3 linked regions of the Homo sapiens genome follow. The protein of the gene in region 1 purifies or fractionates together with the protein of each later gene. This does not show direct contact. Each region holds a gene or a part of one and is shown in the gene's direction. Other genes may lie near its edges. The genes, in order: UST, SLC30A7 and OCIAD1.

Region 1 (3,653 bases):
TGTCCTATAAATAATGAAATTTAAAAATCAGGGTCTGTAGAGGCCTCAGGAGACCACCATATAAAGCTTTGTAACTGGAACCAAACCCTTGTTTATACCTAAAACATACTTGTCACTACTCATCCCATGTTGTTTGTCTTTCTCTTTGGATAAAATGACAAAATGTCACATAAAATGTGATCGTGAAGACCAGGAGCGAACACCCAGCCTGCTCCTGTACAGTGACTGACTTAACCAACAACCTGCCCTCGTAGCATGTGTCACTGGGTCTGAGACACTGGAAGCCCACACCTCAATCCCATAGTGGATATACTTAGTAGGCAGAGAAGAAAGTGTTTTATAATGATCACCTGTCAACCTTACTTGAAGGCACAACCTTCTTTAGAGAGTGACTTACTCAGATAGTCAGGACCCCCAGGGTGTGATCTGCCCAGGTCCTGCATCAGCACCCCTGTATACTTGTTAAGAACCCCCACCCAATCATAGTCTCGTGTGTAGCAGCCTCCCCAGATGCTTCTGGCGTAGCTATAGTTGAAATCTACTGTGCTAGACAAATGTCATAGCCTGGAGAAGAAATGGCAGCAACAATGAAGCATTATATTTGCTTGGTAGGAAATCAACCCCTGCTATCAGAAGTGACATTATTCCCCAAAGGAAACATTAACTAGAGGGTCCTTGTGTTTCTGAAAAGGCCAAAGGAGAACTGCTACTTCTACACCGGCAACGCATTCATTGTACCTTTTTGCTTATGCTATGATTTCTGCTTCGTTTTTAGGCGTATTGTTGTTATTCCTGTCTTGTTTCATTTGCCATAACAAAAGAGTTTGCTTATAGTCCAAATTATAGAACTAGGAGTGTTGGTTTTTGACTTCACCATAAGCCCCCTGAGTCCAGGTGGCCTCTCCCCTGCCCCCGACCCTTGCCTCAATAACAAATACCTCCTGGTTAACATTTAGTGCTTCAGGTATTGGGAAGATTTGGGGCTGGATGACTCACTTGCTGATCACAGTGAATATCTTTATAACAGGAAACATGATTTGAACTCCCTAAAGTATTTTTTAAATCGTGTAGTATTTTTCAGATTTTTGAATTTTCTAATCTTGGAGAGGTGACTCATGACACCACACCTTGATACACACACAATGATTTTTATAACTCTTTCATCATATCACCTTGCACAGTCTTTACAACAATGCTTTGAACTAGGTAAGGGTGATTTTTACCATTTTTCAAAAGAGAACCCTGGCTTGCCCAATTCCCCCAAATGATAAATGACAGCCAGGCCTGGAGCCCCACTCCCGGGCTTTTCTCACTCGCCTTAGTGTCAGTTCAGAGAGCTGGCCTACAAATCAGCTCTCTGATTTTTACAAATTAGGCTGTTTTCCTTCTGCAATCTAGACAAACAAAATAAAACAAAACAAAAATCCAAAGATTCCTCTTTAACTCTTCCAAAGAATAAGATGATTAATAGGCATGACCTGACAGCTCTTTTGAGTTCTACATAAATACTATGTCGGTAAGTTTCATATTTCAAAACTCCTAAATTCATTTAATTGGTTCAGTTTGGTCCTCCTATTAAAAAACCATTCTACTCACCCCTTGATTAGTATTTGTTAGAACCTAACTGCTTGTGCCTGCATTCATTCGTCCACAATACTTAGGCAGGGCCTCTGAATTCAAGGCCCTGGGCTTGGCATGAAGCATGGATGAAAGTGACAGAGAAGGAATGGTGAGCAGGGCAGGACACCAGTTGGAAGGACTGGGAAGGCCCTGGATGGGGCTACATCTGGGCTGGTCCTTGAGGGAAACAGGATTTGGACTTATGCAAGTGAAGGTGGGAGGTAGAGGGGGTAAACTCTCAGCATCTTGCTGCATTTCAAATATGAATGTCTGATTTTAAATAAATTTTTATATCCATAAAGGGAGCCTGGTGAATGGGCCCTTGAGAGAGCAAAGCTGAACGTGAATGAAAACTTCCTGCTCGTGGGGATTCTTGAAGAGTTGGAAGATGTGCTGCTGTTACTGGAAAGATTTTTACCTCATTACTTCAAGGGCGTGCTCAGTATCTACAAAGACCCAGGTAACTTCATTTGTAAGCAAGCTCTTCTCCATGAGAGGTCTGTGTCCAGGGCTACTCACCTTGAAAAGGCCTCAGGAAATAAAGGAGTGAAATGATCTCTTCTGATGACAAAGGGCAGTTAGTTCCCTGGGCTTGCAAAGGAAAGTTAGAACCAGGAGCTGCAGATGCCAAAATCTTGAGCTTCATGTTCAGACATAAAAGCACCATGTTCCAAAGGCTTAATGGCTCCATTTCTCCCTATGGAAACTGAAATTGGCAACATTCTCCATCAGCCTTGTCTTGAGCATGTTGCTGGAAACTGAAACTGGCAACATTTTCCATCAGCCTTGTCTTGAGCATGTTGTTGGGGTGGGTACAAATGAATCCGTGTGTGTGCACCTGGACTCCATTGATGGAAACATGCGTGAGTATGAAAGAGCCATCCTTGTGATGAATTCTCTCTGGCCCAACTTCCATTTGATAAAAGCACTCTAGTGTATCAAATCCTGACAGTGGAATAGATAGAGCAGCAAATTGAAAATACAATTATGATTTTATCCTAACAAACCGAGTGGTCCCCAAATAGCAGCAAGAAATAGAATGTGGCAAAGCAATTACAAGGGCTGCCTGTGGTATCATCGTAAGTATAATTACTTTCAGAAATCCATCATTTATTTTTTCATTGTCATTTTATCCAAAGAGAAAGACAAACAACGTTGTTTGTTTTTTCCTATTCTCCTTAATCTACTGCTGTGACAACAAGCCTTGAATACACATTCAGTGATCTGTTTATTGTTCTGTTTTGTTGTCCTGAGATGGAAGAAGGCATTCTGCCCTGTAGAAATAAGCAGCAGATAGGCCCGGTGCGGTGGCTCATGCCTATAATCCCAGCATTTTGGGAGGCCGAGGCAGGTGGATCACCTGACGTCAGGAGTTCGAGACCAGCCTGGCCAACACGGAGAAACCCTGTCTCTACTAAAAATACAACAATTAGCCAGGTGTGTTGGTGGGAGCCTGTAATTCCAGCTACTCGGGAGGCTGAGGCAGGAGAATCGCTTGAACCTGGGAGGTGGAGGTTGCAGTGAGCCAAGATCGCGCCACTGCACTCCAGCCTAGGCGACAAGAGCGAAACTTCATCTCAAAAAAAAGAAAGAAAGAAAGAAGGAAGCAGCAGATGAAAGCTCCCCAAATGCAGTCTGCTGCCTCACATTCCACAGGGTTCCCGAACCCCACCTGCATCACTGGTAGGTCCCAAGGCCCAGGGAAACTGGTCTTTGCCCAGAGAGCCCTGGATCCCGTTGCACAAGGTCAAGGTGGCCCTACCACCATCAGGGACTTGCTGAAGGAAGGTGGATAGTTGGTGGAGGCTGCCTTAGCCTCCCAGCTCTCATTAGAGTTCAAATCCCATTTACCTGAGTGGGGTTGTGAAACTAGGATTTCCTTTGTCTTTTCAACAACAAGCCATTTAAAGAGTTTATAGAATTTTAATGTAAAGAGTTTGATGTGACTGATTTTTATTTCTAGAAGACAACATAAACTCCGTTCTTTGTGCAAGGAGAGGTCTTATCCTAAATTAGACTCCTTTGAAGAAGAA
Region 2 (3,753 bases), on another chromosome or scaffold:
ATACTCCATACACACACACAAAGTTCTCAGAACGAGAGCAAAACATGCATATATCCTCACTACAAAAAGAAAAATACTAATACTGGAGCATTTTGCTGTGTCTCCTTACCTCGAGTGCAGTAGATTGCAGTAGGGCCAGCCGATTTATTTCCCTGCAGCTTAGTTATCATAAAACGGAAGGGGCGTCTCGTTTGCTCATTTTTGTTTTTTTTTCTAAACCAAGTAGCGTGCATCTATCCTTCTCCATTAGCTGGATTAACAACCTGGAAAAAGTGCCGCCCGCAAAGTGAGCGCCTGGAGCAAGGGACAGTCCCCGAGTGGCCGCCCCTCCCTTTCGGTGACGCTCCACTTCCTGTCGGCCTAAAAGGCATTCCCAGGAAGCTCGGTTTTGTAGTTTCCAGCCCACCTCCGAAAGCCAATCCTTTCCTCCATTTCTTCTCCAAGGTAACAACTTTTAAACATTCACGTGACGGACCACCTTCCCTCAGCCAAACAACTTCCCTGAAAGGCGCCCGAAGGAGCCTTCCCATCCACCGCGGGTGCCCAGGAAAGGCCTGTGGGGCTCTCCTCCCCGCGCTCCACACGCCCTCGCATCCCACCGAGGGGCCAGCTTCTGCCTGCACGTTGCTGAAACTGGCCTGGAGGTTCTGACAAGAATTAGAGCGGCGGCCGTTGCCCCGGGGATGACCTGGAAGCGAAAGAGACCGGCACGAATTCTAGAGTTTCGGGGTTTCCGCGGGTTGAGATTGTACGGGAAACAATGCATTAACCAAACCTAAAAATCAAACAAACACGTCTGGTAGAACCTACCATTAAAAAGCTTCTTTCCTATACTACGTTTAACAGCCTTTATTTTGAAAGACATTGATTGATGCCAGGCATGGTGGCGCACGCCTGAGGTCTCAGCTACTCCGGAGGCTGAGGAGGATCACTTGCGTCCGGGAGTTCCAGGCTGTAGTGAGCCTCATTGTGCTCCAGCCTAGGTGACAGGGCGAGACCTTGTCTCTTAAAAAAATAAAGAAAGAAAAACATTGATCGCCTCCTGCGTGGCAGTCCAGAAGGGTCAAGCGCTGTTTTCGGGGTGGCGTGGAATGGATTCCTAAGATTTGGGCGCCCATAGAGTTAACGCAGCAAAACGATCACTTGCGTTTCCTGCGGACTGGCGGCAATAGAACACGTGGCTGCCTAGACTCTTAATCACTGATATCTACCACACCAGGATTTAATGCCAGTTGGGAGGAAATGGCGAAAGGGCAGGCGCTGGAGCCCATGCATCCGGGAACACTGGTGGTAGGCGGTCGGGTGGGCGTGAGCGGGCTCTCCATCTCCCAGCCCAGTCTGCAGGTCGCCACCTCAGGATTTTCTTCCTGAGTCCGGGTGGCAGGATTCCATCCCAGGTCAGCCCCTCACACCCCCTGGTAGTTGCCACCTCCTGGCGTCCCTCCAACAGCTCCAGCACCTTTCTCATCCCGCCCCCGCCGCAAGCCACGCCCTCCGCCGCGCAGGCCCCGCCCGCGACCGGCCTCCCTCCTTTCCTGTCCCAGGACGCGTTGCGCGGCCCGGGCCGGAAGTAAGCGAATTCCCGGGTGTGTGTCTGTGTCTGTCTGTGTCTCGCAGCGGCGCGCGGCCCCGGACAAGCGCTGGGGATTCCCGTTTGAGGCGTCACTACTGTCACTGCCATCACCCCACGGAGCCACTTCTAGAGGGGAGTAGACCCGGCCCTTCGCCGGGCAGAGAAGATGTTGCCCCTGTCCATCAAAGACGATGAATACAAACCACCCAAGTTCAATTTGTTCGGCAAGATCTCGGGCTGGTTTAGGTGCGGGGTGCTGTGTTTGCGGGGAGGGGGTGTCCGGCAGAAAGGGAGAAGGCCCAGACCTCAGGATGGCCCGAGGTCCAGTGAGGGAGAGTCAAAAACTCCCCGTCAACCCCTAGCTGTGAAGAAAGGAGCATGTGAACTGGGAGGGTCTTGAAGAGGGTACCCAGCCTCGGGGTCCCGGCACCTCCTTAACTCTCCCGGCTCTTTTCCACGTGTATCATTCCCAGGTCTATACTGTCCGACAAGACTTCCCGGAACCTGTTTTTCTTCCTGTGCCTGAACCTCTCTTTCGCTTTTGTGGAACTACTCTACGGCATCTGGAGCAACTGGTAACCAAAGGGGAAAATGGTTTGGGCGGAAGCTGGGTGTGAGGGAGACGAAGCACTGTTTGCTTAATGCCACGTAGCTCCTCACTAGGAGGTTCAGGTCCTACCTTTGTTACCTACCTCTGCTGCTGAGTTGCTTTCTCATACCCACACCAATCTGGTAGGGCTACAGTTCTTGAGTAAGATCTGGGCCTATCCTGTGCAACCTCTCTTGTCACGCTCCCCTCCAGTTCCATCAGACAAGACTGACAAGCCCCTCCTTATTTTAGCAGATGGGCAGAATCTTTCATTTCTAATTGTAGGCCTTAGGTTTACCCACTTTGTTGGAATTGGGAGAAACTTGTTTGCTGCCTCTCTCGGGGGGGAGTGGCATTTGGATTTCACCCTTAAGATTCTGAGAGAGTATATCTGAGATGTTCTACTTAGTTTGTTATTGGGGCTTGGAATGGGAGGTTTTATAAAGTGATATCGGGAGGAATATGTGTCATTCTCTTCTCTCTTTAATGCCGAAACTGTCTCATGATTTTCCTGTAGTCTTAACTGCGATGTAAAAATCCCATATAGTTTCTAGAAACAACATTTCTTGGGTTTTGGTGGCACCTTTGAGGGTTTTTGTTTTTTTTGAAACATCCTTAGGAGGAGGAAAATCTAGTGTGTAACTCTGTGGCAGTGAAGTTACTATTATTCAGGTATTTGCTGTTGAGTAACTTAAGGTCTTATGAAGTTGTTCTGCTAACAAGACTGTCACACTCCTAGGTGTACTAATTCTGTCTTTAGATCCCATACTCCTTCAAAAATCTGATGAAAGCCAATACTCAGAATTGTACATAAAGCTTCAGGATGTTGTTGGGTTCCCTGTACTAAATCTTGGACTCTAGATTAAGAACCTGTTTTCTATTTATTAAATAGACTTAGTCTCTGTTGTTTAAGACCCATTTTCAGAGAAAATCGCTGTCCTTGATCTTCTGTTGAGATCAAACATTGACAGGTAATATCACCAGGTTTTGTGACATGTATACTTTTATATAATGCTTGGGCTTCTTTCAATTCAACCGTCAATTCAGTTCTATAAAAAATACTCAATAACCAGCAGATTATGAAGGTTATTGGTTTAGTCAACAGTTGGGTATAAAGGCATATTGGCACAATGAAATCTTAATATATGTAATAACCATTTTGAATCCTTTGGGAATCAGATGTGTTAATTTGAAGGATACCCCATCATAGATTAATTTTTTAATCCCATAGTATTAACACACTTTAATATACTGTAGATGTTGAAAGCACTTGTACTTGAATAATCATACTTTATCATAAATATATAATATTTACAGTATATTTTACATTTTTCTCTTCCTAAATTATGCCAAATTAATTTTGGGATATGTGCTGATTGTATCAGGAGTGTATCATAGCTTATATATGCATATTTTGTATCAAGAGTGTATCATAGCTTGTATATGCATATTTTGTATCAAGAGTGTATCATAGCTTATATATGCATATTTTGCTACAGATAGTTTCTATTGCAGTGTTTCACTATGGCTTTCCATTACATAAGTCACTCTGTGAAATATCTCATTCAAGAGATTCACACTTGAAGTTCCT
Region 3 (3,653 bases), on another chromosome or scaffold:
TTCTTTTTGAGATGGTTTTATTCTGTCACCCAGGCTGGAGTGCAGTGGTGTAATCATGGCTTACTGCAGTCTTGACCTCCTGGGTTCAAGCAGTCCTCCTACCTCAGCTTCCTGAGTAGCTGGGACTACAGTTGTATGCCACCATCCCTGGCTGTTAAAAATTTTTTTTGGTGCAGTGGGTTTTTCCCTATGTTGCCAAGGCTGGTCTCAAACTCCTGGGCTCAACCAGTCCTTTCACCTTGGCCTCCCAGAATGCTGGGATTATAGGTGGGAGCCACTGTGCCTGACCTTTCTTGTACATTTGTGAATTTGAAAGAGTTATATGCCAGCTTCTAAGGCATTTCTTAAAGATGAATTTTTAAATCCTGGTTTCTTTTAAGTCTTTTTGGAATAGCTATACATTAGCCAAAGTAAATTTTTTGATACAAGTTTACCTCTAAAGGAAGAGGACATTCGAATAGGGTTTTATAGCTATTTCAGTATAGGGTTTTATGATTTTCTCTTAAGGAATTTCAGAGTATGTGTCATTGTTTCAAGATTTTCTATTTACTACTTTAAAAATGGAAATAATAGGTCTTTGGTACCTTCTTGAAGGTCATATGCCACAAAGAATGCAAAAATACATGAAAGTCCTTAGTATTTGTTGTTATGGTCATTTTTTAGAGCTAATTTTATTTTTAATCATTAGCGGTTGCTTCGTTTGGAGTTCTGTTTTTATAACAATGATAGATAATATCTGCATCATATTATTGATGTAAAAAAAATCTACCTTTGAAATGAATTAGGGATGTACCATACTTTTGAATGTTTGTCATCAAACAACATTTAGCATAAACTGCATCTAGTGGCCATTGCTCTGTAATATGTAAAGACTTGTCGGTACTTTGTCCTGCTAATTAATTTGAGGATTTAGATTGTAAGCTCTGTGAGGGCAGAAAGTAATATTTTTCTCATTTTTGTAATCTTTTCTATTATTGTCTGCATAGCATAGTACTTTACACTGTATCAGAAATTGAGTATTTTGGTTTAGGCTTCTATGGTAATAGAGGTTAAGAAAGGAAATTTGGTAGACCTTTAACATTTGCTGGATTTTGACATTTTTGATTTTTGACTGAAGTCTTCAAGTTCTGTTACATGACACAAGAATGTGAAATGATTTTTTCTTTTTTTGGGAAAAGCTGGTTTTTTGTGTGCTTTATATAATTTAAAGAAAAGACTTGTTATGAAATAGTTTCAGTCATTTTCTGAATTATTGTTGAAATTAGTACAGGGTAGATTCACATGGTCAGAAAGTGTCACTTAAAGTTTTCACCTTTAGCTTATGTGGTTGATATTTATCTAATTAGAAATTAAGACCCAGAAATTTAAAAAATTCAAGCACATATTCCATTAGCTGCCAGAGCAATGTCACCACACATCCTGTAGCTTCTAGAAAACCATGTAACATATACTCATGAGGGAATGAGAGCAAGGGGAAAAGGCAAAATGTGAAACATAAGGATATATAATGTCTTAGTATAATAATGAAATAATTTTGACTTCATGTATTCCCTGAAGAGTCCACACTGTGATAACTGCTGCTTTATATTGTTATGATTACTCACAGACAGAAGCTATGTGGAAGAGAAGCAAAAAAGTAAAGGAGTAGAATAGACAGCGGAGCATGTTTTAAAATGTAAAATATAGAGTACCTGTAAAATGTAGTAGTATTTTCTTCTTATAGTAGTATTTACAGCCCTGAGAGAGAAGATTGAATTAATTACAACTTGAACACTTGACCATTTCTACTGCTGTATTTTTTGTGAAAAACGAAAATTCAAATGTTTGTTTTATTATTTCCCACTATTTTTTTTTTTTTTTGTATATGGCTTAATATGTGCCACACTTAGGTAGTATGGTAAAGATGTAAAGGTACCTAGGCTTTGGATCTAAACAGACCTATACTCAAATCTCAGTTCTTGTTAGGGCTTGTACCTTGGGCAAGTTACTAATCTTTTTTCTCACCATTAAAATGAGAATTGTGTTTAGAAGTTTGTTATGAGGACTAACTATTTATGTAAAATTCTAGATACAATGCATTTGTCCAACCCCAAGTTCACAAAAGTCTGGTCATCCCCTTTTTGTAATTATAATTTGACTCTCATGTGCTTTTATTCAAATGAGAGAGAAACATAACTTTTCATCATAGCAACAAACTTAAAATAATGTCTTTTACTTATTATTGCTTGGAATCATCAATTATTTATGCTTTTTTCCTAGTCAAAGTAAACAAGTATGGAGATACTTGGGATGAGTGAAAAATTACATCATTGGACATGAAGGAGTTTCAACATCCAGCTTCATCTAGGTGGTCATGATTACCTGCATGCTTTGAGCTCAGCAGCAGTCTTCATAAACACATTTAAAACAAGATCCTGGGTTTTTGTGGTTTGACTTCTATGGTGTTTTAAAAAAACACAGATTTTTAGTGTTAATATTGTGTAAATGTACTCACCTTAGGGATTCATTTGAATGATGGTATTATACCATGATTGTATACAGTTTGTGAAATTGTTGCAAGGGCAAAGATAACTCTTAAAAAACCGTCGAGATTACAATGCTCTAGAATCAGCATATAAGAAAATAAATGATATCTGCATGTTGAATTGGGGTGGATGGGGGGAGCAAGCATAATTTTTAAGTGTGAAGCTTTGCATCAAGAAATTATTAAAAAGCTTTTTTTCTCCAGTATTTTCTGTATTATCTTAATGTTTATGGCAAATAAAATGTAAAGGAACATGCAACAGCCCTCATCTTCCTTGATTTTATGGTTTTATTGTTTGTAATTTATTGATTTATTTTTAAGCTAGTTATAATCATGTAGGTATAGGAAATAAAGTCATCTATAATATTTCTATAATATGGCTATAATATGGCTATAAATCTATAATATGGCTGGAGGCAGTGGGCAGTGGTTCATGCCTGTAATCCCAGCACTTTGGGAGGCCGAAGTGGGAGGATTGCATGAGTCCAGGAGTTTGAGACCAGCCTGGGCAACAAAGCGAGACCCTGTCTTTACAAAAAAATAAAAATTAGCTGGCGATGGTGTCGTGTGCCTGTAGTCCTAGTTACTTAAGAGGCTGAGTTGGGAGGATCAGTTGAACCCAGTGGTTCTGGGTTGCAGTGAGCTGTGGTCACACCACTGAACTCCAGCCTGTGCGACTGAGTGAGACCCTGTGTCTAAAAAAATAAAAATATAATGAATGTGATTTATGTAGATAAATTGATAATATAGTAAATAGGTAAATGCCTTAAAAAGCATTTTTAAAGAATTTGTAAATTCTAAAACAATAAAAATTTGGTATACATCACAGAGACTGATATTATGTTAAAAAGAAAAATTGGTGTACAGTGACCCTTCGTATCTGTGGGTTCCGTATCTGCAGATTCAATCAACTGCAGATTGAAAATATTTGAGGGAGAGAAATGGATGGTTGTCTGTACTGAACTCTTGTTATTCCCAAACAATACATTGTAATAACTATTTACATAGCATTTACATTAGGCATTACAAGTAATCTATAAATGACTTAAAGTATATAGGAGGATGTGCATTGGTTATATGTAAATACTACACCATTTTATAGTGGACGTTAGGAACCTGGACCAATAGA

Evidence for each region.
Region 2: the proteins of UST (region 1) and SLC30A7 purify together in Homo sapiens (affinity purification with mass spectrometry; 2 studies listed by BioGRID and IntAct, with this or other methods). This does not show direct contact.
Region 3: the proteins of UST (region 1) and OCIAD1 purify together in Homo sapiens (affinity purification with mass spectrometry; 2 studies listed by BioGRID and IntAct, with this or other methods). This does not show direct contact.

What each region holds. Positions count from the first base shown.
Region 1 is NC_000006.12:149,019,402-149,023,054, forward strand, and holds part of UST (uronyl 2-sulfotransferase), read left to right. Parts: intron 1-1,922; coding exon 1,923-2,080; intron 2,081-3,653. UniProt on the Homo sapiens protein: Sulfotransferase that catalyzes the transfer of sulfate to the position 2 of uronyl residues in glycosaminoglycan chains. Has mainly activity toward iduronyl residues in dermatan sulfate, and weaker activity toward glucuronyl residues of chondroitin sulfate.
Region 2 is NC_000001.11:100,894,524-100,898,276, forward strand, and holds the start of SLC30A7 (zinc transporter 7), read left to right. Parts: upstream 1-1,566; 5' UTR 1,567-1,739; coding exon 1,740-1,819; intron 1,820-2,046; coding exon 2,047-2,148; intron 2,149-3,753. UniProt on the Homo sapiens protein: Zinc ion transporter mediating zinc entry from the cytosol into the lumen of organelles along the secretory pathway.
Region 3 is NC_000004.12:48,858,466-48,862,118, forward strand, and holds the end of OCIAD1 (OCIA domain-containing protein 1), read left to right. Parts: intron 1-1,691; exon of another isoform or gene 1,692-1,738; intron 1,739-2,259; coding exon 2,260-2,297; 3' UTR 2,298-3,350; downstream 3,351-3,653. UniProt on the Homo sapiens protein: Maintains stem cell potency. Increases STAT3 phosphorylation and controls ERK phosphorylation. May act as a scaffold, increasing STAT3 recruitment onto endosomes. Involved in integrin-mediated cancer cell adhesion and colony formation in ovarian cancer.